Homo sapiens: one gene and its partners. The protein of the gene in region 3 purifies or fractionates together with the protein of the main gene of each other region. This does not show direct contact. Each region holds a gene or a part of one and is shown on either strand. Other genes may lie near its edges.

Region 1 (3,951 bases), on a different chromosome or scaffold from region 3:
GAAGGAGGCCTCGTCGGCACCCAAGTCCCTGCCACAAACCAGGTGCTGCATCCACCAGGCCAGTGCTCCACATGGCTGCCTGCCCCAGTACCAAAGCCGCCTTCTCTTCTGCAGCTGAGGCCTGCTTTTTTCACTGACTCAAGACACTGGACAATCAGTCCTAACTCAGTCATCCCTCAGTCCAGGAAGTACTTACATTTCCTTCTTTTTTGAAAAATCAAGTTCACAACTATGCTAGGAAGTACAGAAAAACAGGGAAGATGTGATTACCTGCTGGCTGGAAGAGACAGGCATAAGATGCAAGGGAGCCTGGTATGGGGAGAATTATGCTACGAAAAGGGGTAAGCCAAAGCCCAGCACCATTTTGCAACCCTAAATATGGATCTAGGCAATGGCCATCAACAGACGCTAAAACCTCAAGATGGAGGAGCAGTGGAAACCTATCAGGGAAGAGGCAGGCTGCCACCACTGGGGCCCCTCATCCATCCTCCCATCAGCAAAGGTGGGGCCACCAGACCTCACATGCCTCCTGAAGGCATCTAAGAGGAGGTTCACAGTGCCACATGCAGGCATCTCTGCCACACGCAGCTCAGCCGGGATCTAATTGAGCGGTTGGACTCATCGCCAGCTTACAGCAAGTGCACGAAACACAGGCACAGGTTAAACACCGCTGTGAGCAAGCAATGAGGCAAATACATCATATGGACTATTCGACAGGACAAATGACCTGGCTGCTCCAATAAATCAATGTCATGAAAAAAAGCGTGGGGTGGAGCCTGTTCTAGAATGAAACAGTTAACACACATAAGCAGTTGCAATGCCTGGATCCTAATTCAAGCAAATCGATCATAAGAAGTTATCTTTGAGATAAATGGAGAAATCCAAATGCGGACTGGAGACTTAGGTGACATTAAGTATTCATTTTTTTATGAGTGATAACGGCACAGAGGTTATATTTAAAATTTTAAGTCCTTTTAGTCAGAGACACATACTCAAGTATTTATGGATGAATAATGTATGAGATAAGCTTTAAAATATTCCAGAAAAAAAAAATGGATGTGTGTGGAGTGGGGTAGGAATAGTGAAATTGAACAAACGTTGACAATTATAGAGGCAAGGCAACGAATTCATGGTGGCCTGTTGTACTGTTTTTCCCACTTTCATGAATATTTGGACTTTTCAATAATGAGTTTTTTGGTTTTGTTTTTAAAGGCTCAGCCTACCAAACAACTGGAGTGGGTGGTGGGGAATCAGACAGACCCAGCCTGCTGGATCACAGCCTTTATGTTTGCAGAGAGAAGTAAGTGGGTTGGATGACCGCAAGTCTTCAATACCAAGCGGAGGGAACACCGACCCCACAGGCAAACAGCACCCCTGCGAAGAGCACAGAATCCTCACCTGCCGTGACTTGCCCGCCTGTTTCACGCTATAGAACATGGGGCCCAGCTCCGCCAGCCACTCCCCGTCCACAGCGGTCACACACTGCATATACTCCTGCGGGCAGAAGGGCAGGGAGGCGAGGGTCACAGGAGGGCCAATGTCCCTCCCAGAGTGGTTCCACAATTAGGAGCCACATGGGAAGGGCCCAATCCCTGGCCCTGCAAGGCTGAAAAAAGGAAAGGAAAAACCCCAGATACTCCCATCCAAACTCCTCCACACTTGAGAAAATGCCCCCAGTATCTAAAAGAAAAGGCCCAACCCCTCCGAAAATCCTTCTAATGACACCAAGAGGGGTTGCTCATCCCAAGCAGCAAGTGGGGAACAATCGTGCCCATGCAGCTGAGGTCAATGCAGTCTAGAGGTCAACCCTGTGCAGAGCTTCCCCAAGTCCCCAAATGAAAACCAACCTCACATGCCCCGCAAAACAATGCATGTGGCCTCAAGGCTCCCAGGCTAAAAGCTCATGCCAGAACGCAGTGAAGGGTTTCAAAGCCTGGCCAGACAGGGGGCCTGCATTATGCAAGTGCCTTGGAAAAGACTCACCTTGGTGGTCATGACCAACTCGTGATACACTATGTAATCTGGGGTGTAGCCCATTCCAAAAAGGGAGCTGGTGGGGTGCAAGTGGCAGGGCATCCCTGTGCGGATGTTCACGTACTCCCCGATTCCCTAGGGAGGAGACACAACAGGCAGCCACATCAGGAAAACAACACCCATTTGGGCAGCGACCCCATCCCTTAACACTCTTGACACAGCCTTTGGCGGAAGCCCAGATCTGCAGAACCACACCAGGACAAAGGAAGAACTTTGCCCTTATACAGGTATCAGGCTGGGAGGGGCTCACTGGGCTCCTGGGTTCACCTTGAGCTTGGCTGCTTGGTGGAAATAGGCAGCACAGATGCACTTCCTGACGATGTCCCAGTCAGTGCCACACGAGGCCAGGCTCATCCGCTGCTGCACCATGATGTCCTTGAGTTGAGCTCGCACCTCCCGGACCTAGGGCAGGAGACGGAGGCACCAGGAGGGAGCCCTCCTTTCCTCTCGACCCTCCCCTCATCCCAACATCCTGCTCATCCACCACTCTACCTTCCGCATGGCCTTAGCATGGATGAAATGATCGTTACACCAGATGGTGGAGTAATTATTGTTCTTCCACTGCAGGTAAACATTCAGGTAGGTCAAATGATCGCTCTCAGGAACAGCGAACTTCTCCCGGATTTGATCACTCTCCTCCTCTCGACCCTAGGAAGGGAAAAAGAACCTTCACTCTAAGTACAGGGGGGTCCAGGCCCACTGAGCACATCCCAGAGGTTCTAACACTACCACCTACCCACACATAGAACTTCAAACATGTCAATAGGTTGCCCTGACAATTTGAGAAAAATTAAAATAATTTTTAAAAAGGTCTACTCTAAAACATGAGGGCTCAAGAGCAACCATACTAGAAGATAAAAAATGCTCTTGCAAATTTCCAAAGCATTCCCTGAGAACCACTGGCCCAGCCCTTCCTTTCCCCTACCCCAACCTGCTTAACCGAGAACAGCAAAATCATTCTTCAGAAACTCTGATTCTGCCCTCTGTTCCATTTCAGTAATACAGAGAGAAGCCATTCCCCTCCCCAACACTTCCTCGAGCCCTCCGGGGAGAGGGGAGCCAGCCGCTGCCCCACCTTGGGCCTGTAGAAGATGGCTGGGACCGAGAGCATGGAAACGATGAGCAGGATCTCGGAGCTGCAGCCCATGTCACAGGACACGATGAGCATCTTGGACAGGGCAGGGTCCAGCGGGAACTCCACCATCAGCCGCCCGGTAGAGGTCAGACCACCTAGGAGAGATGAGCAAACCCGGATATTTGACGGGACAGTAGAGGAAAGAAGGAAGTCAAGCGCCAGCACCCATGAGGCTCCCGGGGCCGCCTCACCTGTGTTGTCCAGGGCCCCGAGGATCCAGAGCTGATACATAGAGTTGAGCATGTTGTCCTCCGGGGGCGGGTCCATGAAGTGGAACTGCAGCAGGTCCTGCACCCCGAGGGACTTGAGCAGCAGCACCACGTTGGCCAGGTTAGTCCTCTGGATCTCGGGCACTGTGGTGGTCAGGAGCTCATTCTTGTAGGCGCTCTGGGTGTAGAGCCTGCCGGGGAGAAGACCCCATCTTCTCACCACAAGGAAACCCCACAGCAGCCAGTACAGATGAAATCCCACAGGGAGGGAGGAAATTCTCATTTCTTCTCCCCACCCACTACTTCAGTGAATCACTGACTTCCACCTATTCAAAACTCCAATCTGCCAATTTAGCCCTTCTTCTGGAGCCTCTTACATGTTTCATTTCTTTTTTTTTTAGACAGAGTCTCACTCTGTTGCCCAACCTCTGCCTCCCGGATTTAAGCGATTCTCCTGCCTCAGCCTCCCGAGTAGCTGGGACTACAGGCATCCGCCACCACGCCCAGCTGATTTTTGTATTTTTAGTAGAGATGGGGTTTCACCATATTGGCCATGGTGGTCTCAAACTCCTG
Region 2 (3,951 bases), on a different chromosome or scaffold from region 3:
AGTGCGCACAGCAGGCTTCAGTACGGTAAGCTGGGAACAATCTTGTTCTGATAAAAGCAATACTCCATGTATTATCTCTGCCTGAATATTAACCCTCCAGGTCCAAATGGCCCTCCAACAAGATGGCTCCTGCTCTCTCTGCACAGCACCTGTCCTCCCTTGCTAGTTGATTATCTGGGTTGTTACTGACTCATGTCTGTCCTCCTGCTAGACCTTAGAGTTTTCCAAGGCAGGGCCTACATGTCTCTCTCTCTCTGTCTCTCTCCCTCTCTATCTATCTATCCGAAACAGAGTTTTACTCTGTCGCCCAGGCTGGAGTGCAGTGGGGCAATCTTGGCTCACTGCAACCTCCTCCACCCAGGCTCAAGAGATTGTCATGTCTCAGCCTCCTGAGCAGCTGGGATTACAAGCATGTGCCACCACACCTGGCTAATTTTTGTATTTTTGTAGAGATGGGGTTTCGCTATGTTGGCTGGGCTGTTCTCGAACTTCTAACCTCAAGCCATCCTCCCACCTCATCCTCCCAAGGTGTTGGGATTACAGGTGTGAGCCACCACACCTGACCTATTTATTTAAGAGACAGGGTCTTGCTCTGCTGCCCTGGCTAAAGTGCAGAGTGCAATGGTGCGATAACAGGGACTGCAGGCATGTGCCACTCTGCCTGGCTAATTTTTTAATTTTTTTTTTTTTTTTTGGTAGAGGTAACATCTCACTATGTTGCCTAGGCTGGTCTTGAACTCCTGGCCTCAAGCAATGGTCCCACCTCAGCCTCCCAAGTCACTAGGACTAAAGGCATGTGACACTGTTCCTGGCCAATGCCATTTTTTTGACAGGCATGAAGGGCAGCTCTGACAACAGTATATCAGCTGTGCTCAACTTTGATTTAAATATATTTAGGCCCCTGGGTTTGCCTTTGTGCTAACTTGTTAAAAACATATTTTTTAAAAAGTAAAACATATACTTTGCAAAAAAAAAAAAGAGGGAGAGAGTGAAGATAAAATATAAAATGCCCTGTGATTCTTCCAGCAAGATTGCTTTGGCTGTTTTCTTAGAAATGTTTGATGCCCAGGCTGGGCGCGGTGGCTCACGCCTGTAATCCCAGCACTTTGGGAGGCCGAGGTGGGCGGATCACGAGGTCAGGAGATAGAGACCATCCTGGCTAACACAGTGAAACCCCATCTCTACTAAAAATACAAAGAATTAGCCAGATGTGGTAGCAGGCGCCTGTAGTCCCAGCTACCCGGGAGGCTGAGGCAGAAGAATGGCGTGAACCAAGGAGGCAGAGCTTGCAGTGAGCCAAGATTGCGCCACTGCACTCCAGCCTGGGCGACAGAGCGAGACTCTGTCTCAAAAAAAAAAAAAAAAAAAAAAAGAAATGTATGATGCCCAAAGAAATGCTTGCAGATCCCAGCTCTGAGCTGCAGGCCCACATGGGTAAAGAAACACAGGCTTTGGCTAAGCATGGTGGCTCATCCCTGTAATCCCAGCTACTTGGGAGACTGAGGTAGGAGAATCACTTGAGCCCAGGAGTTTGAGGCTGCAGTGACATATGATCATGCCACTGCACGTCTGCCTGGGCAACAGAGTGAGATCATGTTTCTTAAAACAAAAAAAAGTAACAGAGGCTCATTATGGAACAAATGGAAATGTAGAAAAACTGAAATAAGCCTAGGCAATATGGAGAAAACCCCATCTCTACGAACAAAACAAAAAATTAGCTGGGTGTGGTGGCGTGTGCCTATAATTCCAGCATTCCAGAGGATCACCGGAGCCCAGGAGGTCAAGGCGGAAGTGGGCCGCAATCATGCCACTGCACTCTAGCCTGGGTGACAGAGTAAGATCATTTAAAAAAAAATAAAAAGAAAAACTGAAACAGAAAGGAATGGAAAAACCCAACAATGTCTCCCTACTTTGCAACAGCCACTATTAACACTGGTATATATCTTTATTTTGCTCTCTAAATTAGAAGTCAGAGGAAATAAGGCTGTGATCACAGCACACACTCTACTTCTTCCATTTCCTACTGTAGCACACCATCCTGCTCCAATCTCAAATTCCTCACATACGCTGCTTTTTAAACCCGCATGACGTTCCACCATATGGATGTACCCAATGGTGCAAAAAGCTCATGGAGTCCACAGGGCTAGCCTTTTTCCTTTAAATAGGAGAAAGGAATAATTTTTAGTTCATCAGAACTAAAATAACCTAAATACATCAACAAGGGGCACTGGTTAAATAAATTACGGGCCATCCACAGGGAAGATGGGGCAGCCCTGAAAAGTTGAAATTTTAGACAAGCAATCAAATACAATGTTAAAGGAAAAACAAGGCCAGGCGCGGTGGCTCACGCCTGTAATCCCAGCACTTTGGGAGGCCAAGGCGGGTGGATCACGTGGTCAGGAGATCGAGACCATCCTGGCTAAAACAGTGAAACCCCGTCTCTACTAAAAATTAAAAAAAAAATTAGCCGGGCATGGTGGGGGGCACCTGCAGTCCCAGCTACTCAGGAGGCTGAGGCAGGAGAATGGTGTGAACCCAGGAGGCAGAGCCTGCAGTGAGCCGAGATCGTGCCACTGCACTCCAGCCTGGGCAACAGCGCAAGACTCCATCTCAAAAAAAAAATAAATAAATAAAATAAATAAATAAAAAAAAACAAAAGGACAGGCTATAAAACAGTATCTACAGTGTGGTTCTACTTACATCAAAATACATTTGAATTAAAAATTGTTACAAAGGCCGGGTGCGGGACCTCACACCTGTAATCCCAGCACTTCGGTAGGCCAAAGCAGGCGGATCACCTGAGGTCAGGAGTTCAAGACCAGCCTGGCCAACATGATGAAACCCCGTCTCTACTAAAAATACAAAAAATTAGCCGGGCGTGGTAGCGGGCACCTGTAATCCCAGTCACTGGGGAGGCTGAGACAGAAGAATCACTTGAACCCAGGAAGCGAATGTTGCAGTGGGCCAAGATCGCGCCATTGCACTCCAGCCTGGACAACAGAGTTAGACTTCATCTCAAATATAAAAAAAAATTGTTAGACAAACACATCGGGCCAGGAGCAGTGGCTCACACCTGTAAACCTAATGCTTTGGGAGGCCAAGGTAGGAGGATCACTTGAACCCAGAAGTTCAAAACCAACCTGGGCAACATAGTGAGACCCCATCTACACAAAATTTAAAAATTAGCTAGGCATGGCAGTGGACATCTGTAGTCCCAGCTACTCAAGAGGCTGAGGTGGGAAGATAGCTTGAGTCCAGGAATTCCAGACTGCAGTGAGCTATGATAGTGCCACTGTACTGCAGCCTGGGTGACAGAGTGAGATCCTGCCTCTGAAATAAAACAGGCCCGGCACGGTGGCTCAAGGCTGTAATCCCAGCACTTTGGGAGGCAGAGGCGGGTAGGTCACCTGTGGCCAGGAGTTCAAGACTAGCCTGGTCAACATAGTGAAACCCTGTCTCAACTAAAATACAAAAAAATGGCCGGGCTCAGAGACTTATGCCTGTAATCCTAGCACTTAGGGAGGCCGAGGTGGGAGGAACAACCTGAGGCCAGGAGTTAAAGACCAGCCTGGCCAACATGATGAAACCCCATCTCTACTAAAATACAAAAATTAGCCGGGCACGATGGTGGGTTCCTGTAATCCCAGCTACTCGGGAGGCTGAGCAGGAGAATCACTTGAGCCCAAGAGGCGGAGGTCGCAGTGAGCCAAGATCACACCACTGCACTCCAGCCTGGGCGGCTGAGTGAGACTCTGTCTCAAAAAATAAAATAAATAAATAAATAAATAAATAAATAAATAGCCGGGCATCGTGGCGCACACTGGTAATCCCAGCTACTCGAGAGGCTGAGCAGGAGAATCTCCTGAATCCAACAGGCGGAGGTTGTAGTGAGCCGAGATGGCACCACTACACTCCAGCCTGTGTGACAGAGCAAGACTCGTCTCAAAAATA
Region 3 (3,951 bases):
TACTCTTTCTACCAAGCCACGGGTAGAAGAGTGGGCTGACTGTGACCAACAGTATCTTCTTCTTTTTAGGAAGGGCAACGCTGTGCCTTGTGTAACTGAGTGTAAGGCAGGACAGGACAGGACAGGAATGGTTTCAGTGGGCTAAATATTAGCTCCCTCTGTCAGTATAAAGATACCGGAGCCTCAGCCATTTCAATAGGATGTGTTTTTTCTCTTAAAGCACTGGTTTTTAGTTTTTCCTTTTCTTTGTTGGGGCTATTGGCCCTTTGTGGGGGATCTTTGAAAACTGTAACTATTCTCAGGAAAATACAGACAAGAACATTCTTGCATACAAATCCATAGATGGTTACGTTGAGAACCTGTGATCAGGGAAATAGGTATGAGCTCCAAAATGAAAGCAAAGGGCACTTCAGCTCATGGTTCTGTTTTTGTTTGTTTTTTTTTTTTTTTTTTAAGAGAGAGGGTCTCATACTCTTGGCCAGGCTGGAGTGCAGTGGTGCCATCATAGCTCAATGTAGTATAGAACTCCTGGGCTCAAGCCATCTTCCCACCTCAGCCTCCTGAGTACTAGGACTACAGGTACGTGGCTTTTTTTTTTTTTTTTTTTTTGTAGAAATGGGGTCTCACTTTGTTGCCCACACTGGTCCTGAAATCCTGGCTTCAAGCGATCCTCCCACCATGGCTTCCCAAAGCACTGGAATTCTAGGTGTGAGCCACCTTGCCCAGTCCATGGTTCTATTAATTGTTCTCAGTACAGGAAGCATGAAGAAGAGGCCACAGAGTCTCCTCCAGAAGGTAGGAAGCCAAAGCATTGGGGTTCCTTTCCTGTTGGACATGCTGGCCCTGACAGCTGCCTCCTTGTCCCTGTTCTTCAGTCTGTCTTCTCACTGTGGTCTTTTCCTGTCTTTTCCTGGGCCAATCACTTGAGGTCAGGAGTTTGAGACCAGCCTGGCCAACATGGTGAAACCCCATCTCTACTAAAAAAAAATACAAAAATGGCCAGGCACATTGGCTCATGCCTGTAATCCCAGCACTTTGGGAGGCCGAGGCGGGTGGATCACCTGAGGTCAGGAGTTTGAGACCAGCCTGGCCAACATGGTGAAACCCCGTCTCTATTACAAATACAAAATTAGCCGGGCGTGGTGGTGCACACCTGTAATCCCAGCTACTTGGGAGGCTGTGGCAGAAGAATCACTTGAACCTGGGAGGCGGAGGCTGCAGTGAGCTGAGATCATGCCACTGCACTCCAGCCTGGGCAACAGACCGAGACTCCATCTCAAAAAAACAAAACAAAAAAAATTAGCTGGGTGTGGTGGTGGGCACCTGTAATCCCAGTTGCTTGGGAGGATGAGGCAGAAGAATCACTTGAACTTGGGAGGCGGAGGTTGCAGTGAACCAAGATTATGCCACTGCACCACTCCAGCCTGGGCAACAGAGCGAGATTCTGTCTCAAAAAAAAAAAAAAATTAGCTGGGCATACTGGCCTGCACCTGTAGTCCCTTGCTACTTGCTTGGCTGAGGGGAGAGGACTGCTTGAGCCCAGGAGGCGGAGGTTGCAGTGAGCTATGATCATGCCACTGCACTCCAGCCTGGGCGACACAGTGAAACCCTGTCTCAAAGACAAAATAAAGATAATCTAGTGATAGAAAATGTGGAGAATAAAATGACTGAAGAGGCTGGCGGAGTGGTGGAGGGAGCAGCAGCTGCAGCAGCTGCAGCAGCAGCAGCAGTGTGCTCATTAACAAGAGCCACAGAAAGACCTGGGAGTCCCTTCTGGGAAAGGGGTACACATTTAGAAAGGAGGCCAGAGCCAAAAAAAAGAAGCGAAAGAGTGTAGGACCCAGAAGCATTAAATAGAGTCCAGACAGAAATGAGCATTCAGCAAGGAGGAGGCGGGTCCCCAAACATCATTAGGCCTGGCACTTGCAGAAGGGCCATGTTTGGGAAACTCACAGAAGCACAGGCTCATCAGGGACTGAACTTAAGACAACTTCTCTCCAGACCCAGACACACAGCCTGGTAAGATGGCAAAGGGCTGGACAGAGCAATGCGTGAAAGGAGGGGCCCATTTGTTCTGCTGCTTCCAGATGGTACCTGCTTGCACGTCTTGGTCCCCAGAAGCCTGGCTATTGAACAGAAGTTGTTGAAGTAGGTGCCATGGAAGACTCGAAAAAGAGATTCTTCAGCCCCAGTCCATTCCACAGGCTCCGAGGGTGCTTCCACTACGCAGAGTTGAGGTGGGGCTGGACTAGCCTTCTGTTTTGTGGGAGTCTGACAGCGAGAGTTAGCCTCTGAGAAGGGAAGAAATAACAGAATCAGAAGAAGGTAGAATGCAGTTGTCATCAGTAGTTTGTCACAAACTCAGAAGTACTTCATTCTACTTTAAAAGGTAGAACAGTTAGGAATGAAAATATTCCCTATCTTTAGGCCAGGCATGGTGGCTCACGCCTGTAATCCCTGCATTTTGGGAGGCCGAGGTGGGTGGATTGCTTGAGCTCAGGAGTTCAAGACCAGCCTGGGCAACATGGCGAAACCCTGTCTCTACTAAAAATACAAAAATTAGCCAGGCAGGGTGGCTCACGCCTGTAATCCCAGCACTTTAGGACGCCGAGGCAGGCGGATCACCTGAGGTCAGAAGTTCAAGACCAGCCTGGCCAACATGGCGAAACCCCGTCTCTACTAAAAATATAAAAATTAGCCGGGCGTGGTGGCAGGCACCTGTAATCCCAGCTACTTGGGAGGCTGAGGCAGGAGAATCGCTTGAACCTGGGAGGTGGAGGTTGCAGTGAGCCAAGATAGCACCACTGCACTCCAGCCTGGGCAAAAAAGCGAGAGACTGTTTCAAAAAAAAAAAAAAAAAAAAAGAAAATATTCCCCATCTTTACTGTTTACAAAACTTGTAGAAAGAATTTATAATTTTTAAGAGGTAGTAAAGTTAAGTGTCAGGCAGTGATCCTGGGTTTACCAGAGTCCTTGCATGGAAAGAAAAAGTCTTCATTTTCTGTTCATCGTACCTGAAGAACTGGAGGCCCAGTCATTGCCTGTGTCCCTGTCACTGTCTCCTTCTTTAGTCTCAGCCACAGCAGAGGCTGAGGCATTGGAGCAGGAAGCACTGACTATGTGGTGCCTTCTCCGGCGACGACCAGAGCACTTGGAGCGGGGGTTGTGGAGCATGGCATACTCCTTTGCTCCTTCCTGCAGTGGACACATTACAGACAGGAAATAGGAACAGGCCCATCACCATATTGATCTCATCATCACAAACTTTCATCTTTACAACATCTGTCTACAATAATAGTGTCTTTTCTTTTTCTCTGTACCATATAATAAGTATGATCATATAACAATGAGAGCTGCTTAACAAAACTTACGTACTTTTTCACAAAAGAGTTGTCCTATAATGTTTTTTTGTTTGTTTGTTTTTTTGAGACAGGGTCTCTCTCTCTTGCCCAGGATGGAGTGCAGAGGCCTGCTCACTGCAGCCTCGAATTCCTGGGCTCAAGTGATTCCCTTGCCTCAGCCTCCCAAGTAGCTAGGACCACACGCACATGTCACCATGCCCAGCTAATGTCCTATAATCTTAAAAAAGATATAATCTATGCATCTGTGTCTTCAATTTTCCAGTGAGTTGTATCTAAAATTAACTTGCGTGTTACTTGTTTGGAATTTGAGAACACATTCTCCTATGGATGAAGAAATGAGATTCAGAGAGGGGAAGAAACTAGCTTGAGAGTATGCAGCTAATAGTTCCAGAGGGGTATAGGAATCAGGGCTCCTTGTCTCCCTAGGCCACTATTCTTTCCAGTCTACCACACTTTCTCTGTTTCCTTAATAAAATGTGTAATGCTTAATCTGTACAATCTTACTACTTAATTTTGAAACTTCCTCCCAAATCTGTGTATGAAACTCAGAAGAATATTGTTTCATTATTTTACAGCTATCACCCCCTTT
Region 4 (3,951 bases), on a different chromosome or scaffold from region 3:
ATAATCAGCCAGGCACGGTGGCTCATGCCTGTAATCCCAGCACTTTGGGAGGCTGAGGCGGACGGATCATGAGGTCAGGAGATCGAGACCATCCTAGCTAACATGGTGAAATCCCATCTCTACCAAAAATACAAAAAAATTAGCCGGGCATGGTGGCATGCGCCTGTAGTGCCAGCTACTCTGGAGGCTGAGGCAGGAGAATCACTTGAACCCGGGGGGGGGGGGGGGCGGAGGTTGCAATGAGCCGAGATCACACCACTGCACTCCAGCATGGATGATAGAGCGAGACTCCGTCTCCAAAAAAAAAAAAAAAAAAAAACCATACCTACTTAAGACTTAATTACAATTTTATGGCTGACACCAATAATCCCCTTTAATATTAAAAATACATCTATAAGCCAAAATAGAAATTTATTTTGCAAAATAAATGGTACAAGGTAAAAAATACAGTTTAAAAATATCAAGTCAATTGAGAAACAACCCCAAGCAGTACATTAAACTGTTTAAAATATGCCAAAATAAGTGACTAATTCAAAGTATCCTAACATTTTATTTCAATTAAGCAGTTCTAAAACTATAAAGTAAAAATTTTCTGGTGTTATTAACTTAAAGGTTACATATTTAGTGCAAGAAAAAATATAAAACAAAAGTATTCCCCAACTTAAATATAATTAAAGTATCTTTTTTTTTTTTTTTGACACGGAGTTTCCCTCACTCTTGTTGCCCAGGCTGGAGTGCAATGGCGCAATATCGGCTCACTGCAACCTCCGCCTCCCAGGTTCAAGCAATTCTCCTGCCTCAGCCTCCCAAGTAGCTGGGATTACAGACATGCGCCACCATGCCCGGCTAATTTTTTGCATTTTTAGTAGAGACGGAGTGTCTCCATGTTGGTCAGGTTGGTCTCGAACTCCTGACCTCAGGTGATCCACCCATCCTGGCCTCCCAAAGTGCTGGGATTACAGGCATGAGCCACCGTGACCAGCCTAATTAAAGTATCTTTTAAAGATATCCACACTTCTTTACTTTTTAAAAACAGATTAATTTTGGAACAATAGTTAAAAATAGTCTGCCAAGATATTGTATTACTCTCTCCCTGGAAGTGTAGTTTCAAAATCGGCAAGGTGATGCTGGGTGCGGTGGCTCATGCCTGTAATCCCAGCACTCTGGGAAGGACTGCTTGAGCCCAGGATTTCGAGACTAGCCTGAGCAACACAGCATCTCTACCAAAACAAACAAACAAACAAACAAAAAAAACCCAAGGATTTTTTTTAAAAACTCTGCAAGGTGACCCAACAAAACTGGAACGATACTCCTTGCAACATGGTCAAAACTTAGTCAGTTTCTACCTTCGCAATTGTCACCTGACCCTCTACTAGTCAGGTATTCCACACTTCCTCTCTAGAAACATGTGTTTCCTGTTATTTTGTTTTTAAATTATTAAATGAAAATCATGATGAGAAACATCATTTTACACTGTAGGGATAATTCCCTGGGCTAACCAGTAAAAAGCTATCAGTGCAGTTTAAAACAAAGTAAAGGGGCCCTATAGGCCCCACTGAAAAAGGTAGAAATATGACCAACTACTACCATATGCCTTTCCTTAGAAGAAACATAATGATTTAATGATGCCCCTAAGATTCATAAAGATACTAACTCTGAAATATCACAGAACATGACATAGGTTTCAAATGGAAGAACTCTTCTAATGAAGATGGAGAATAACACATTGTAAACTAGTATCTTTCACAACCTAATTGACACTTTCGGTGACTTTTTTTGGTGAATAAACATCTTAACATATTCATTTTCCCCTATACACATTTTGATTACACCTCATAATGCAACACGGTAAAAAGGACGTGATTGACTTTTCTGTGCAACCTACTAAAATATGTCCTTTCTTATAAGGAAATTAATTTTGGTTGCAACTTTTACCTGTCACTTTTCATGAACCTCACCACCACATAATTCAAGACAGAGATATATTAACTATATACTGAAGTCTTAAGTATTTGGGGGTAGAAGACACCTTTGAAAACCTGAATAAAATTATGAGTCTTCTCCTTCCAAAAGTATGGTAACAAGAAATTAAAAAGTCAAAGTTCTAAAAATCTTCTCAACTGGACCTACCTGATTTTAAATTTAACTATAAAGCTATCATAACTAAGGTAGTGGGGTATTAGCCTAAGAAAACACACACAGATCAATAAAACAGTAGAATCCAAAACTCACAAACATAAGCAATTGATTTCAATAAAAGTGCCAAGGTGATTCAAAAGAAATTTGATAAATGTGAAACAACTGGACATCCATATGTAAAATAATGAATGAACCTTAACCACTGCTTCACAATTGCTGGAGTGCAATGACGCGATCTCGGCTCACTACAACCTCCCTCTCCCGGGTTCAAGTGTTTCTCCTGCCTCAGCCTCCCAGGTAGCTGGGATTGCAGGTGCCCACCACCATGCTCGGCTAATTTTTGTATTTTTAGTAGAGAGGGGGTTTCACCATGTTGGCCAGGCCAGTCTCAAACTCCTGACCTCAGGTGATCTGCCCTCCTCAGCCTCCCAAAGTGCTGAAATTACAGGTGTGAGCCACCATGCCCGGCCCCACTGATATGACTTTTATATGACTCCATTTATATGACTTTCTGGAAAGGGCACAGAGATCAGACCAGTGTTTGCCAGGGGCTGAGGGTAGAAGATGAAACTGAGTGCAAAGAGGAACTAGGAGCTGGGCTTGGTGCATGCCTGTAGTCCTAGCTACTTGGGAGGCTGAGGCTGGAAGATTGCTTGAGCCCAGAGTTCAAGTCCAGCCTGGGCAATACAGTGAAACTCCACCTCTCTCTCCCTCTCAAATAAATCAATCTAGTTTTTACAAAAGCAATTATGAACTTTCTATAGACCTCTAACCTACATCTTACTTTGAGAACCTCAAATATAACATATATAGTCTCCCTTAGACCAGGAGTCAGAACAGTTCAGCCCATGAACTGGCCCACTATCTGCTTTTGTATAGCTCACAAGCTAAGAATACTTTTTACATGTTTAAGTGGTAGAAAAAAAATCAAAAGAAGATTTTCATGACACATGAAAATGATATGAAATTCAAATTTCAGTGTCCTGAAAATGACTACTGGAACAGAGTCAAACTCATTTGTTTAAATATTGTCTATTAGCTACTTCTGAGCTACTACAGTATTGTTGAGGAATTGTGAGAGGAACTGTATGTCCCACAATGCCTAAAATATTTGCCATCTGACCCTTAAGATTGCTGACCTCTGCCTTAAGACACAAGTTGTTGAAATTTTCTACACAGATGATACCTGAGAAGATTTATGCCAGCACAAACCTCTCTTCCATACATAGTAGCTCTAAAATTTTTACAGCCATAAAACCCTTTTTTCAAGGAAACTAACATGTAAAGCAGATAAATGAAGAACTTCAATAGTTATGGTATAGGGCAGCACTCCCCAACCTTTTTGGGACCAGTGACCAATTTCATGGAAGACAATTTTTCCATGGACAGGGGTAGAGGGGGTTTCAGGATGAAATTGTTCCACCTCAGATCATCAGGCATTAGATTCTCACAAGAAGCACACAATCTAGATCCCTCACATGCACAGTTTCTGATAGGGTTCACGCTCCTGCCGCTGATCTGACAGGAGGTGGAGCTTTGGCGGTAATGCTCACTTGCCTGCCACTCACCTCCTGCGGTGTAGTCAGGTTCCTAACAGGTCACGGACTGGTAGATACGAGGCTGTGGCCCAGGGGTTGGGGGCCCCTGGTATAGAGGCACTAAACAGAGCCCTGGGGTAACCTCTGAAGAAGGTCCTTGAAACCCCAAAACAGTGTTTTTCAAACTGCCTGTTGCAGCCAATTTGGCTGTCAATTTCATAAGGTGATTTTGTGACCGGCAGAAAAAAAGAATAGAATGTTACAGAAAATCAGA
Region 5 (4,749 bases), on a different chromosome or scaffold from region 3:
AGAAACTTGTTATATATGAAAAGTACTGATGTGTGTGGTTGAGTTAAATTGTAATGGTATCTCTAGAGCTGCCCTTGACTACGGCCAAAATTTTATTGCCACGACATCTCTATGGATCACGTAAAAATGTATCCAGTTATTCAGCACGTATTTATTGAGCACCTACTATGTTCTAAGAGCTGAGGATACAGCAAAAACAAATATAAAGATAAGATTCCTATTGTCAGCCGAAGGTAGGGGTTGGGGGAGATAGATAATTAAAAAGTAAATGTGTAACTGTCAACTATCTGCAAGTGCTAGGAAGAAAAGACTAAAGGGATAGAGAAAGATCGCCATCTTATTTTAAAAAGATGGCCTTAGGAAGGCTTTTCTGGCAGGATGGTGATTAATTTTAAATCAAGTTCAGTAAGAATTTGGAGTGTGCTTGCAGGAAGTCCCTGGGAAACTCTGCTACTTCTCGGCTATAGGATCTTATTCTCAGTTGCCTAAATTCACTGAGCCTAGCCTGTAAAATTCAGAGAGGATGAGGAACATGGATTGTAAACGATAATAACTATCGTTTATGAATGTAATTTTATTATATTATGATTTTTTCTGAATGTAATAACGTCCCCATGCCCAAAGGAAAAAAAAAATTCCAATCTACTGAGGGGGTTCTTGTCACTGTTCCTGGCATTTGCGCTTAGGAATGGAATCGGGACCCTGCCACTGAGCAGGCATCCCCTTCTGCAAATTCAGAAAGTACATGATTGCTAGCTTCAGTTCCATCATCTATAAATCGGAAATAATGTCATGTTGACCACGTAGGGTTTTTGTTGTTAAATTGACATTTATTGAGCTACAGCTATTAATATTTCGGTGCATTGAGCCACGTCAATGCACCGGCATGGTCTTAGACTATGGATTTATGTGCATTTATTTAATCCAAGTAAACCAAGTACTATTTTTAATGGCATTTTACAGCCAAGGAGACCCAGGCACAGAGGGGTTAAATCTAGAGCCCCCACAGCCAGGGATCCAACCCAGACAACGTGGCTGCTGAGCCTGGCAATGTTGTTATGCGATCAGCCCTGTGCCTAGCACATAGTAAGAGCTCAATAAATCTGTATGGTGCTGGTGGCTGTTATCAGTTCTTGGCAGCGGCTGCTCCACGATTTCCACTTGTCAAGAGTATAGGGTAGCCAGTTTATTGGAAGCAGCAGCTAGGGAGCGCTTGCATAGCAACCATAGTTTTCTGCGTAGCAACCATAATGCTCACTTAAATTGGGAGGCTTAGAGGAGCTGACGGGGCCTGTGGGGAAGGGGGAGTTAGCCGGCCACCCCTAGGCAAGCCACTTTGCAGTGGAAACTGCACGCAGCCCCTGCAAGGCGAGCTCTCCCCACCGAGCCTCCCTGTGAGCCGGTCCTCCTGACGCGCAACCCCCCTCCCTTTTGAAGCAGATGGTTCTTCCCGTTGTCCCTGCTCTTTCAGTTTCCGCGCTTTGGAGTCACAAAGCGCGGGGTCACGTGGGCGGGCCGTGCGCTTTGTGACGTCAGCCGCCCCGCCTCTCGGCCCGCCTATCCGCGCACGCCAGCCCCGCCTCGCGCGCGCCGCCCGTGCAATCCCTGCTTAAGAGACCCCGCAGTGGGGCGCTCGTCCGAAGCCAGGCCGCGTCCGCCATAGTACCTGGCTTGGAGGTGTCGCCGCCGCTCGGTGAGAGCCCCCGAGCGGCAGGGGGCCAACACAAAAAGGGAGCCGGAGAAGCCCTAGCCGCTGCCCAGCAGCTTGCGGGCGTGTTCTCGCGGTTCCGGGCCTCAAGGCGACGGAAACGAAAGGCGAGCGAAGCGCGGAGGATCCGGCGAGAAGAAGCGTCAGGGAGCCTCGGCGGTGTCCCCGGGGTCCGCCGAAGCCACCCGGCCGCCGGCTGGGGCCCGGGGTGGTGAGGAAGTGCTCCGAGGCCTCGCCGAGGCCTAGCGCCGGCTTTGTGTCCGAGGCGGCGGCGGCGGCGGGGGGAGGCGGAGCCGGGGGCGGCCTGCGGGAAGGCCTCTCCTCCGCCGACCGCGCGTTTTCGGCCTAGGCCGTGGGGCCGCTCGTGGCCTCCGGGGAGCAGGCGCCAGGGGTTTGTGTGCGGTGGGGGCCTGGGCCTGGGCCTGGGGAAGCTGACGCCGGTCGTCCGGAAGCCAGGAGGAGGCGTGAGGCCGCTCGTGGACTCCGGGCCTAGGCCCTCTCCCCTCAACCTTCTCCCGGGGCCTGGGTCACCCCAATCCACGGAGAGAGAGACCCGCCGGGAGGTGCGGCCGCGCTATGGACCCCTGACCCCGTGGGGTCGCTCGGACTCTTAACGTGTGGACTGACCGCTACTGACTGCACCGCCAATCCCCCCGTCTCTGCCGGCCCCTTAGCATGAGCGAGGGGGACCCAGCCGGGTGACATTGTGCCCGTTGGCGGATTCTCGATTTCCCCTCTTCCCCGTCCTCGTCCTCCTCCTCCCCCATGAAGTGATTCTGAGTATCGGGGGGTCTCTGGATTATTGTTCTGACGAACCCCTGCTTGTGGTTGGGGGGTATTTAATCTGAGGCCTTAGGGTCCTTCGGTGTCTTTGAGTGTTTTGTGTGTACATATTTTGCTCTTAAAGTTTATAAATATACGTATATTGAGAGTGTCCACGTCTCCTCGCTGAACCTTAGGAATCCCTTGGCACCATGTCCTGTGTGCATTATAAATTTTCCTCTAAACTCAACTATGATACCGTCACCTTTGATGGGCTCCACATCTCCCTCTGCGACTTAAAGAAGCAGATTATGGGGAGAGAGAAGCTGAAAGCTGCCGACTGCGACCTGCAGATCACCAATGCGCAGACGAAAGAAGGTAAGGGCCGCTTGGTCTTAAGATATTTGGTGGCTGGAGAGAGATACTAGCTAGAAGGTGCCTGGCAGGAAGCTAACCGCCATTATGTCTCTAGTGGGGACTGTTCGTTCTAGTACTTTGGATACAACTTTCATTGATAGCCAAGGTTTGCAGCAGTTGGCCTTGGAGTTTCACTGGTTTATTTTATTTCTGCATACTTGGGTCATCTGTAACAGGCTAACCCAAAACGTGGAAGCCTGATTATTCTTCTCGCTGTTTTTTAAAATGAGGGAGGGAGGAGAGGGGGATAGCTATCTAGACTCTTTGAGTGCTTGTCTTAGGGCGTTTTCTAACTTATTTTCCATCAGGAGGGCAGGAGAGCCTGTGCAAAGCTTGTTTGTTCAATCAGCAAAAAAAAAAACAAAAAAAAAACCAAAAAAACAATTTTCTAACCTAACAACATTGTGGAGTTTGATGGCAAATTTTATGTCCTGCCTTCCTCCCTCCTCGCATTTATTTATTTGGAGTTGCTTGCCTGTGTTGTGGATAAGGGATCTGAACTTTAATATTTTTGAGGATTTAATCAGTATTGGAATTGTTTTTGGATCTTGAAATGTTCTGATGTCACCGCTCTTGTCTTGTGTGTCAATTCCAGAATTAGTAATACGGCAATTAAGTAGTTAAACTGTTAGTTCATCACATTACTCTTAAGCTTTATCAATTCGGTGAAGATCAAAAGTACTGATTTTTTTTAAAGTAGTAGTTGCTAGATTTTACGTGACTGTTGATACTAAGGTACTGAAAAATAGGCTGCTACCATAGAGTACAAATAAGCCACTGATAAGAATCGTTAGATTCTTTCTCCTTTTCAAAAGTATTTTGATAATATTGGGAACTTAACAGTAGATAAATGTGACAAGCAGTCTTTCCTGACTCTGAACTTGTTTTGGTTTCTTTTTCTCAGATCAGTAATGCTGATGTGTATTTTTTAGCAGTTCGGTGTTCTAAAAGTTACTGATGGAATGAGAAGAAGTGAAGTTACAATTAGGTTAGGGTATTTTTTTAGTCACTAAATTTTTATCACACTTAAGGTGTGACATGGATTCTTTTAGTTGAAATGGGAGGTCCCCCACCTCCAGCCTGTAGTTTAGGTAGAGTAAATCTTGTCATGTAGAAGACCAGTTTTCCATTTACAATGCAGACCTAAGTATAATTGTATTAGGTTAAGGAACAGCAGTGCTGGCATATCATGACTCAAAAATATTAAGGAAGAATTTATTTGCTCAAATGATATTATGTGAAAATACTGTCTGCTTCCCCACCTTTTAAAAACAAGTGTCATACCCTTTGATAATTGGAGCTATGTGTAATCCTCTGCCTAAGGAGAGGAAAAACTGGTGGTGGTCATGAACAGTTGAGAAATAGCTTTATTTAAGTGCCTCACAAGCATCCCTTAACTACAACAGTCACATTTCACAGAACAGATGGGTTTATAAGAAGTTTGGGCCATCTTGACATATTGAGTATTTATGAATGAGAGGAGAGACAATATGAATGGAATTAAAGGATATTAAGGCAATTTTAATCGTCATATATTCAGGTTTCATATTTTACTGGAGTATTACACAATCGAATCATTAGGGCTAGGCGTTATCCATCTTTTCGACCCAACAATTGAATGCAGCTTTTTTTTTTTTTTTCCCCTGAAACAGAGTCTCACTCTGTCACCCAGGCTGGAGTGCAGTGGCACCATCTTAGCTCACTGCAACCTCCGCCTCCCTGGTTTGAGCGATTCTCATGCCTCAGCCTCCCAAGTAGCTGGGACTACAGGCATGCGCCACTACACCCAGCTAATTTTTTTTTGTATTTTTAGTAGAGATGGGGTTTTGTCTTGCTGGCCAGGCTGGTCTCGAACTCTTGGC
Region 6 (3,951 bases), on a different chromosome or scaffold from region 3:
GGTTAAGCACGACACCCGCCAGCCCAGGCACTGGCTCTCGGGCACACAGACTGCGCACTCCAAGTACAGCTGGGAGAAGGACAGCCACCCCGAGAGGAAACCACCAGCCCACAGCCTCACCCAGCTCCACTCACCGCCGCCTCTCCGTTTCGCGGATCTCCCGTTCCCGCTGCCTCTGGCGCTCTCTCTCCCTTTGTTCTTTGATTTTATCAAACGACAAGATGTCTCTCTTTTCTTTGCTTTCTGACTTGCGATCCTGACTCTTGGAGCTCTGTTTACCAAAACTGGTTTATTAATGTCAGGAAAATGATTGCAACAAACAAACAATGGAGATTATGCACGTGTGCATGAGACTAAGATTCTCTGGCCCCACATGGTGTAGATGGAAGGCTGTGGTCTCCAGACCAGAGGCCCAGGCATAGGCTGCTTCCCTCCAAGTTTGCATTTTACTGCCTAATCCAGAATCCTGCTTTCAGATGTCAAGGGGCATTCATGGAAGAGAAGAGGTTGGCCCACGCCTCAGAAAACCTACAGGCACAGTTCTTCTAGCATAGCACAGCCAAGGACTCACATAATCCAAAGCAAACCTAGGCCTCTCAGAGCCACGGGCACATCCGCACAGGGCCACTGTGGCCATTAGTTCAGAGGGGACAGCAGTCAGGCCAGCTGTTTGGACAGCTGGAGGGCAGACTACATGTTTCACATCTCAACTGCTGGCTCAGGACTCAGGCAGACAGCTCTAAATAGAATATGCCAGGCCGGGCGCAGTGGCTCACACCTGTAATCCCAGCATTTCAGGAGGCCAAGGTGGGCGGATCACAACATCAGGAGTTCGAGACCAGCCTGACCAACATGGTGAAACCCCGTCTCAACTAAAAATACAAAAATTAGCTAGGCGTGGTGGCGCATGCCTGTAATCCCAGCTACTTAAGAGGCTGAAGCAGAAGAATCGCTTGAACCTGGGAAGCAGAGGTGGCAGTGAGCTGAGATTGCGCCACTGTACTCCAGCCTGGGTGACAGAGCGGGACTCCGTCTCAAATAAATAAAGAGAATATGCCAAAATGCTTTAATGCAAAACAGTGCTCCTAATAAGGTACAGAACACTAATAGCCAACTTCCGTAATTTATTTTTTGTAGGTTTTTTGGGTTTGAGACCCAGTCTTGTTCTGTTGTCCAGCCTGGAGTACAGTGGCTCAGTCACAGCTCACTGCAGGATCAAGTGATCCTCCCACCTCAGCCTCCTCAGTAGCTGAGACCACAGGTGCACACCACCATGCCTGACTAATTTTTCTATTTTTGTAGAGACAGGGTTTCGCCCTATTGTCCAGGCTGGTCTCAAACTCCTGAGCTCAAGTGATCTGCTGCTTCATCCTCCCAAAGTGCCGGGATTACAGGTGTGAGCCACCGCACCCAGCCTACATTCATCATTTTCTATCTGTGGCATAAAGCTCAGAGCTGTAACAACTGACTCCCATTTCCAAGGTTCTCCAGGGCCCCTCACCCAAACTGGCTACACATCAGACCCTCCCAGGAAGCTTTTAAACAACACAGAACCTGAGGCCTCCTGCTGATCCACACAGAATCTCTGGGGCAGGGGCCTGGGAAATGACATTTTTAAAAAGCTACTCAGTTTATTTCCCTAATTAGCCCCCATAGGAGAGAAAGAGCGAGCAATGAAAAACAAACCAACCCAACAGAAAGACAGGCAAAGGTCAAGATGAGACATTACACCAATTATTAATAAAATGCAGGCTGGGGAGAAAGGGGCACACAGACACAGGAGAGACACACATCACCCAGCACTTTGATGGCAAGCTTTGCCTACGAGACGGGCAGATGTCTTACACACACTGCAGTAGAATAAGGTGACAGATGCCCACATACCACCGCACAGTGGGCAGCACAGCAGGCAACAGTGTCAGCACGGGACTCCTGGGTTCTCAGGCCAGCTTAGCCACTTACTAGCGACCTGGCAGGTGCAACACACCCAGGAGATTTAAGTCCCCTCCACAACCTTTCTGAACAGCACTTTATTTCAAAATTTAAACGTTAAAAGAGGCTGGGAGTGGTGGCGCACACCTCTAATCCAGCAAGTTTGGAAGATCAAGGCGAGAGAATCACTTGAAGCCAGGCTAAGCAACAAAGTGAGACACTCCCACCCTTTATTTTTTTTAATAGGTAAATATCATGCATAAAATAAAAAATATATGTAAAAGCGAAAAGAAAAAAAAGCAAAAAGGAAAAAAGCCAAACCGTATGTGTCTGTATGTAGAGACCTCCAAGGCATATTACACAGAAAGTGCAAGCTCCAGCACATCCTCTGTCTGTGGTCCCATGGCAGGCACAGGGGACGTGTGTGCAGAGGAAGCCGAGGAGCCCAACTGGACACACGGAGGCTTTAGTATGCCCGTGCTGCATCTCCTCAAGCTGACCAGATGTTCTAATCATGCATGTGTCATCACTACTTGTTTTCAACATCACAGTTACATGGGGGTAAGAGTATGGGTCTTTTTCAATGTTCTACTCTACATTTCTCTGTATCTTATGATTTTCATGTGAAAAATGACATTAGGAACTGATACTTTATAAAATCCAAATGTTCATTTTAAAAACTAAGTCTTGGTTGGGCACGGTGGCTCAAGCCTGTAATCCCAGCACTTTGGGAGGCTGAGGCGGGTGGATCACTTGAGGTCAGGAGTTCGAGACCAGCCTGGCCAACGTGGCAAAATCCCGTCTCTACTAAAAGTAAAAAAATTAGCCTGGTGTGGTGATGTGTGCCTGTTGCCTGTAATCCCAGCTACTCGAGAGGCTGAGGCAGGAGTCGCTTGAACCCAGGAGGCAGTGGTTGCAGTGAGCAGAGATCACGCCACTGCACTCCAGCCTGAGTGACACAGCAAGACTCCATCTCAAAAAAAAAAAAAAAAAAAAGTTAAGTCTTAACAACACAAAGTGGTCCTGGCTGAATATGGTGAACTCCACATTCGTTAAAAAAGTACTGTCACCTCATGAATATCTTAGCTAGAACCTGCAGCTGGGAAGCAGAGGTTTTTATTGTTTCCCAGAGTGAAAAACGCAAATGAGACGCTATTTCGTCTAGTTGTGTGCACAACTCGAGAGGTACAGCTCTTGATCTGATAACATGACCAGCTCTCTGTCCTAGGTTGGTCTCTACCTTTTTGGTTAATTTAATAGGAGACTAAAAAACCAATGGAAGAAAGTAGCCTGCTATTAAGTCAACCAAAGAGTAGGACCTGCCTTCCGGCTCGAAAAGCCTGGGTCTGGCCCATCCCACCCTATGGTGAGCTGCCGTGTGAACCAATGCTCTGTCTGAAGGCGGCACATCCCGGTCAGGAGCCAGTAAGGGAAGCAAACACGGATGGGCACTGCTCTGCAGAAAGCACCAGGATTCATGTGTGTGTCTGTATCCGCAATCTACACAATTATCGCGCCTCCTACAAACTTCAATTTTAAAGGCAAAACAGTGCTGTTTTCATAATGCGGATCAAACGGGCCGTGGAGCCATCGTGAGAAACAGCTGGCCCTGAGATGGCAGAGGCAATACTCACTCTCTCTTTGGACCTGCTTGTGGTTTTCACGCTAATGACGGGCTCTCCTTTCGATTTATCCATCACGACCGTCCGCTCCATTCCTCTGCTTCCTTCAGGAAAAAACACAACAAACTATCAAAACCTGTGGACGCCCCAACTTCCCGCAGTAAACAGCACTCTGATGGACCCTGGGCTTTTGAACACACAAGGCGTGAGTCAAGTGACTGACACTAGCCTTGGGAGCCTCTAATTCTCATCTATTGTGAGCAACACGGTAACACGGGCACAGCATCATGGGGGTACCCTCACAGCTCTTTACACAACTAGAGGGACCTGTTCCCAACCTACAGCTTAAACCTGCAGCACGCACACAAGCACGGCCATCCTGCAGAGCCCTCCGTGA
Region 7 (3,423 bases), on a different chromosome or scaffold from region 3:
GTAAACAAAGGCACAAAAGAAAAACAAGCAGCATAACCTTTATTTGGTCATACAATAGGTGAAGAGTGTCTCAATGTTTTGAACACTAAATTTTACTCGTGATAATTTTTTTTCTATCTAGGCAATTTATTCAGATATGTGCTTTAAAAATACACATTAGGAACTTTGCAACTGATATGTTCTATTTAATATTAGAAACATTTTTCATGGTAATACATTATTTAACTTTCTATAATTAGAGGGAAAAAATCATAAAGATCATACTTTACATTTTAACCTGACAGAATAAATGCATTATATATATCTCTTTGAAAACCAGTGCACTTAGAAGTTTCTAATTTATGCACTCCATTGCCCTAATCAAAAAGCTATACATTTTCCAGTATCCACACTATAACACAGTCCTAGTAAAGATGCACATTCCTTTAAACCCTTTACTTTCCCTTGAATTTTGTGGGGGAGGGTGGAGGGGAAGGAAGGATACAGAAGTTGCAGTGCAGACCTATATTTATTTAGAACAAAACATCATATCCTATGTTAAAAAAATAATTTTATCAAAACCAAATTTCAATCACAGTTATGTATGATTTTCAGTTAATGGTACATGTTGAAATTGCACTTTGCAGATATCCTGATAATGTCCTTGACAGCGTTCCCCATTTCAGCCTATGTTTTTTTCAGTAGACACAGGTTCTTCCAGAGTTTTCTTTTGGCTCCCCTTCCGTGAATATTTGTATTTGTCTACATAGGCTTTAACCAGATTTGCCACTTTAGTAGAATTTACTTCTCCACTCTTACTATGACAAACCTAAGAAAAAAGGGGTGGGGGGTAAACTTTTTTCATGCTTAAAGGGATTAAAGCCAAAATAGAAAGCTTTGTGAAAAACAACCCCAAAGAGATAACCAGACTTATTTTCATGTTTCATTATCTCACACAAACTAATCAAAAGGCAAAAAAGTAGACAGGAATTAGTAGGAGCTAGCTTTTATTATTTTAATTAAACTTCAGCATTCATTTATTAAAACAGAGGTGGTTCAAAACAACGTGCACATACTCCACTAAAGCCATAACTTACTTTATCTACTGCTTTCCGTACAATTTCTTTATATTCTTCCTTGGTGATATCTTTATTTTGGTAAAATGGCTTGATGGCCAATTTTACCTCTTGTGCTGCTTTTTCTTGAATTTGCAATTTCTGATGAGAAGAAAATGTATAATTTATTATTTGCCAGTCATACTGCTCTCACAAAATCCCAAACAAGAAATTGAAAATACTTCATATTTACAATAAGAGACTCTCCAACTATTAACGTGACAAATATAAAACAGTTTATTTACTAAAACATATCAAACATTTCTAAAAACAATTATAAAATATTACCAGTAATTTACTGGACATCAACACATCTAGAGAGAATCCTTCAAATAATAATGGCATTTAGACAGCCAATAAGAAATTCCCTTCACCACTCATACAATAAAAAGCTGATATTTTTTCTCCTTTATCATATACAGAATTATGAAGGTTGCTCTCAACCTTGAACTTGCCTTGTCTGTCTTCGAGCTATCTGCGCTGGCTTCCACTGCAACACTTACTTTGCTTTCTGCCAATTTTACAGCAGCATTAGAGGCTTTGCTGTGACTTGATGACGAAGTATTACCAGAACTTGGTCCCTGAACCATTCCCGTATTTCCTGGGGCTGCTGTCGGAGCAGGCAAAACTGGTGTACTCATGTTATTACTTACATGAGAAGAACTAGGAATACCCTGTTTTAAAGAGTTATCATCAGTTAATGAATTACTTGTACTCGATAGAAGTCTTTTAGTGATGCATTAGAAATAACATTAAAAAACACAAAGCAAACCAACCTTAGTACTAAAGAAAAATGCATATTTCAGGTAATTATATCTAAAGGGCCCTTTAAAGAAAAATGAGTAACATTCTTAAACGGGGCCTTATTTAGATATGTCAAGATGACTTTTAAATTATATATATGTATTGTAACATTTTGACAGCAATACTAAACACAAGGAGGAGAATAGCATTTAAAGAATTATATCTTTCCTGCAAGGATCTTTAGGAATATTAACAAATATTAAAGTGCCCTCACTTTAAAGCCTGGAAAAAATAAGGCAGTAAAGTCAAATGGCTTGTAGTAAGTTGACAGGAGAAAAAAGGCTTGCAGTAAGTTGACAGGAGAAAAAGATTAAGATCCCAAATACTAAAATCCAATTTCCCTATTCCTTCAACTCTATCTTACTGTCAGGATTCTATTTATTTTATTTTATTTTAATTAATTATTTATTTATTTAGAGACGAAGTCTCACTCTGTCTCCCAGGCTGGAGTGCAGTGGCGCGATCTTGGCTCACTGCAATCTCCGACTACCAGGTTCAAGTGATTCTTGAGCCTCAGCCTCCGAGTAGCTGGGATTACAGGAATGCATCACCGCGCCTGGCTAATTTTTGTATTTTTTTTTTTCTAGACAGAGTCTTGCTCTGTCACCCAGGCTGGAGTGCAGTGGTGCAATCTCGGCTCACTGCAACCTCCGCCTCCTGGGTTCAAGCAATTCTCCTGCCTCAACCTCCTTAGTAGCTGGGATTACAGGCGCTTGCCACCACACCCGGCTAATTTTTGTATTTTTAGTAGAGGCAGGGTTTCACCATGTTGGCCAGGCTGATCCTGACCTCGTGATTCACCCACCTGGGCCTCACAAGGTGCTGGGATAACAGGCGTGAGCCACCATGCCCGGCCTAGGATTCTAAAATTTTTAAAAGGCAGTCATAAAATTATAAGCAACAAATTGTTTGCAAATTATTCAAATTTTCTATGTCTCACAGAGGCACTTCTCCTTTCTTTTTAGCATGATAAATTCATGAAAATGAAACACAGATGGTAATGGATAATAAACAGCTTTATCCAGTGTTTGTCTGAACAAGACAATAAAAGCTTCATCACAGTACTTAATCACTAGTTCCCACCGTCCCCATATACCCCCTAAACAGTGCAAAACAGGGGAAAAATGTAAAGCACCCACCACTCGATTCTAATTTGGCTTATAATTTGGTTTACTTAATATGAATAAAAAAATCCTGTTCAGATATAAGTAACAGCATATATGTAGCTTGGATTTGGTAATAAGTATTTAATTAATTTTCTAATTTGGGAGTTGGGGGGTTTTGAGAAGGATAGTGAAAGAGGGATTATGAAGGTTTACCATAACTGAAATCAAATAAACAATTGTTTTTGAATGCCAGGATGCCTTTTTTTGAACATCTGTCATGAACAGCTAAATGTTTACAATGGCTATATTGATTAAACTTGAGTTGCTAAAAACATACCTGCAATTGCTTTCCATCTGGTTGTGAAGCAATGTAGTTGACTTGTTGGGATGGTGGGGGAGGGGGTGGTGGTGGTGGTAGT

What was found.
Region 1: the proteins of EZH1 (region 3) and DHX38 purify together in Homo sapiens (affinity purification with mass spectrometry; one large-scale study listed by BioGRID and IntAct). This does not show direct contact.
Region 2: the proteins of EZH1 (region 3) and SUGP1 purify together in Homo sapiens (affinity purification with mass spectrometry; one large-scale study listed by BioGRID and IntAct). This does not show direct contact.
Region 4: the proteins of EZH1 (region 3) and BRAF purify together in Homo sapiens (pull-down; one large-scale study listed by IntAct). This does not show direct contact.
Region 5: the proteins of EZH1 (region 3) and RBBP6 purify together in Homo sapiens (affinity purification with mass spectrometry; one large-scale study listed by BioGRID and IntAct). This does not show direct contact.
Region 6: the proteins of EZH1 (region 3) and SAFB2 purify together in Homo sapiens (affinity purification with mass spectrometry; one large-scale study listed by BioGRID and IntAct). This does not show direct contact.
Region 7: the proteins of EZH1 (region 3) and SCAF11 purify together in Homo sapiens (affinity purification with mass spectrometry; one large-scale study listed by BioGRID and IntAct). This does not show direct contact.

What each region holds. Positions count from the first base shown.
Region 1 is NC_000016.10:72,106,958-72,110,908, reverse strand, and holds part of DHX38 (pre-mRNA-splicing factor ATP-dependent RNA helicase PRP16), read right to left. Parts: intron 3,570-3,951; coding exon 3,361-3,569; intron 3,265-3,360; coding exon 3,110-3,264; intron 2,683-3,109; coding exon 2,527-2,682; intron 2,437-2,526; coding exon 2,302-2,436; intron 2,110-2,301; coding exon 1,984-2,109; intron 1,495-1,983; coding exon 1,399-1,494; intron 1-1,398. UniProt on the Homo sapiens protein: Probable ATP-binding RNA helicase. Involved in pre-mRNA splicing as component of the spliceosome.
Region 2 is NC_000019.10:19,310,378-19,314,328, forward strand, and holds part of SUGP1 (SURP and G-patch domain-containing protein 1), read right to left. Parts: intron 1-3,951.
Region 3 is NC_000017.11:42,710,195-42,714,145, forward strand, and holds part of EZH1 (histone-lysine N-methyltransferase EZH1), read right to left. Parts: intron 3,196-3,951; coding exon 3,015-3,195; intron 2,292-3,014; coding exon 2,095-2,291; intron 1-2,094.
Region 4 is NC_000007.14:140,914,752-140,918,702, forward strand, and holds part of BRAF (serine/threonine-protein kinase B-raf), read right to left. Parts: intron 1-3,951. UniProt on the Homo sapiens protein: Protein kinase involved in the transduction of mitogenic signals from the cell membrane to the nucleus. Phosphorylates MAP2K1, and thereby activates the MAP kinase signal transduction pathway. Phosphorylates PFKFB2.
Region 5 is NC_000016.10:24,537,945-24,542,693, forward strand, and holds the start of RBBP6 (E3 ubiquitin-protein ligase RBBP6), read left to right. Parts: upstream 1-1,621; 5' UTR 1,622-2,682; coding exon 2,683-2,848; intron 2,849-4,749. UniProt on the Homo sapiens protein: E3 ubiquitin-protein ligase which promotes ubiquitination of YBX1, leading to its degradation by the proteasome.
Region 6 is NC_000019.10:5,595,227-5,599,177, forward strand, and holds part of SAFB2 (scaffold attachment factor B2), read right to left. Parts: intron 3,659-3,951; coding exon 3,567-3,658; intron 272-3,566; coding exon 135-271; intron 1-134. UniProt on the Homo sapiens protein: Binds to scaffold/matrix attachment region (S/MAR) DNA. Can function as an estrogen receptor corepressor and can also inhibit cell proliferation.
Region 7 is NC_000012.12:45,921,387-45,924,809, forward strand, and holds part of SCAF11 (protein SCAF11), read right to left. Parts: coding exon 3,342-3,423; intron 1,769-3,341; coding exon 1,550-1,768; intron 1,197-1,549; coding exon 1,077-1,196; intron 809-1,076; coding exon 662-808; 3' UTR 1-661. UniProt on the Homo sapiens protein: Plays a role in pre-mRNA alternative splicing by regulating spliceosome assembly.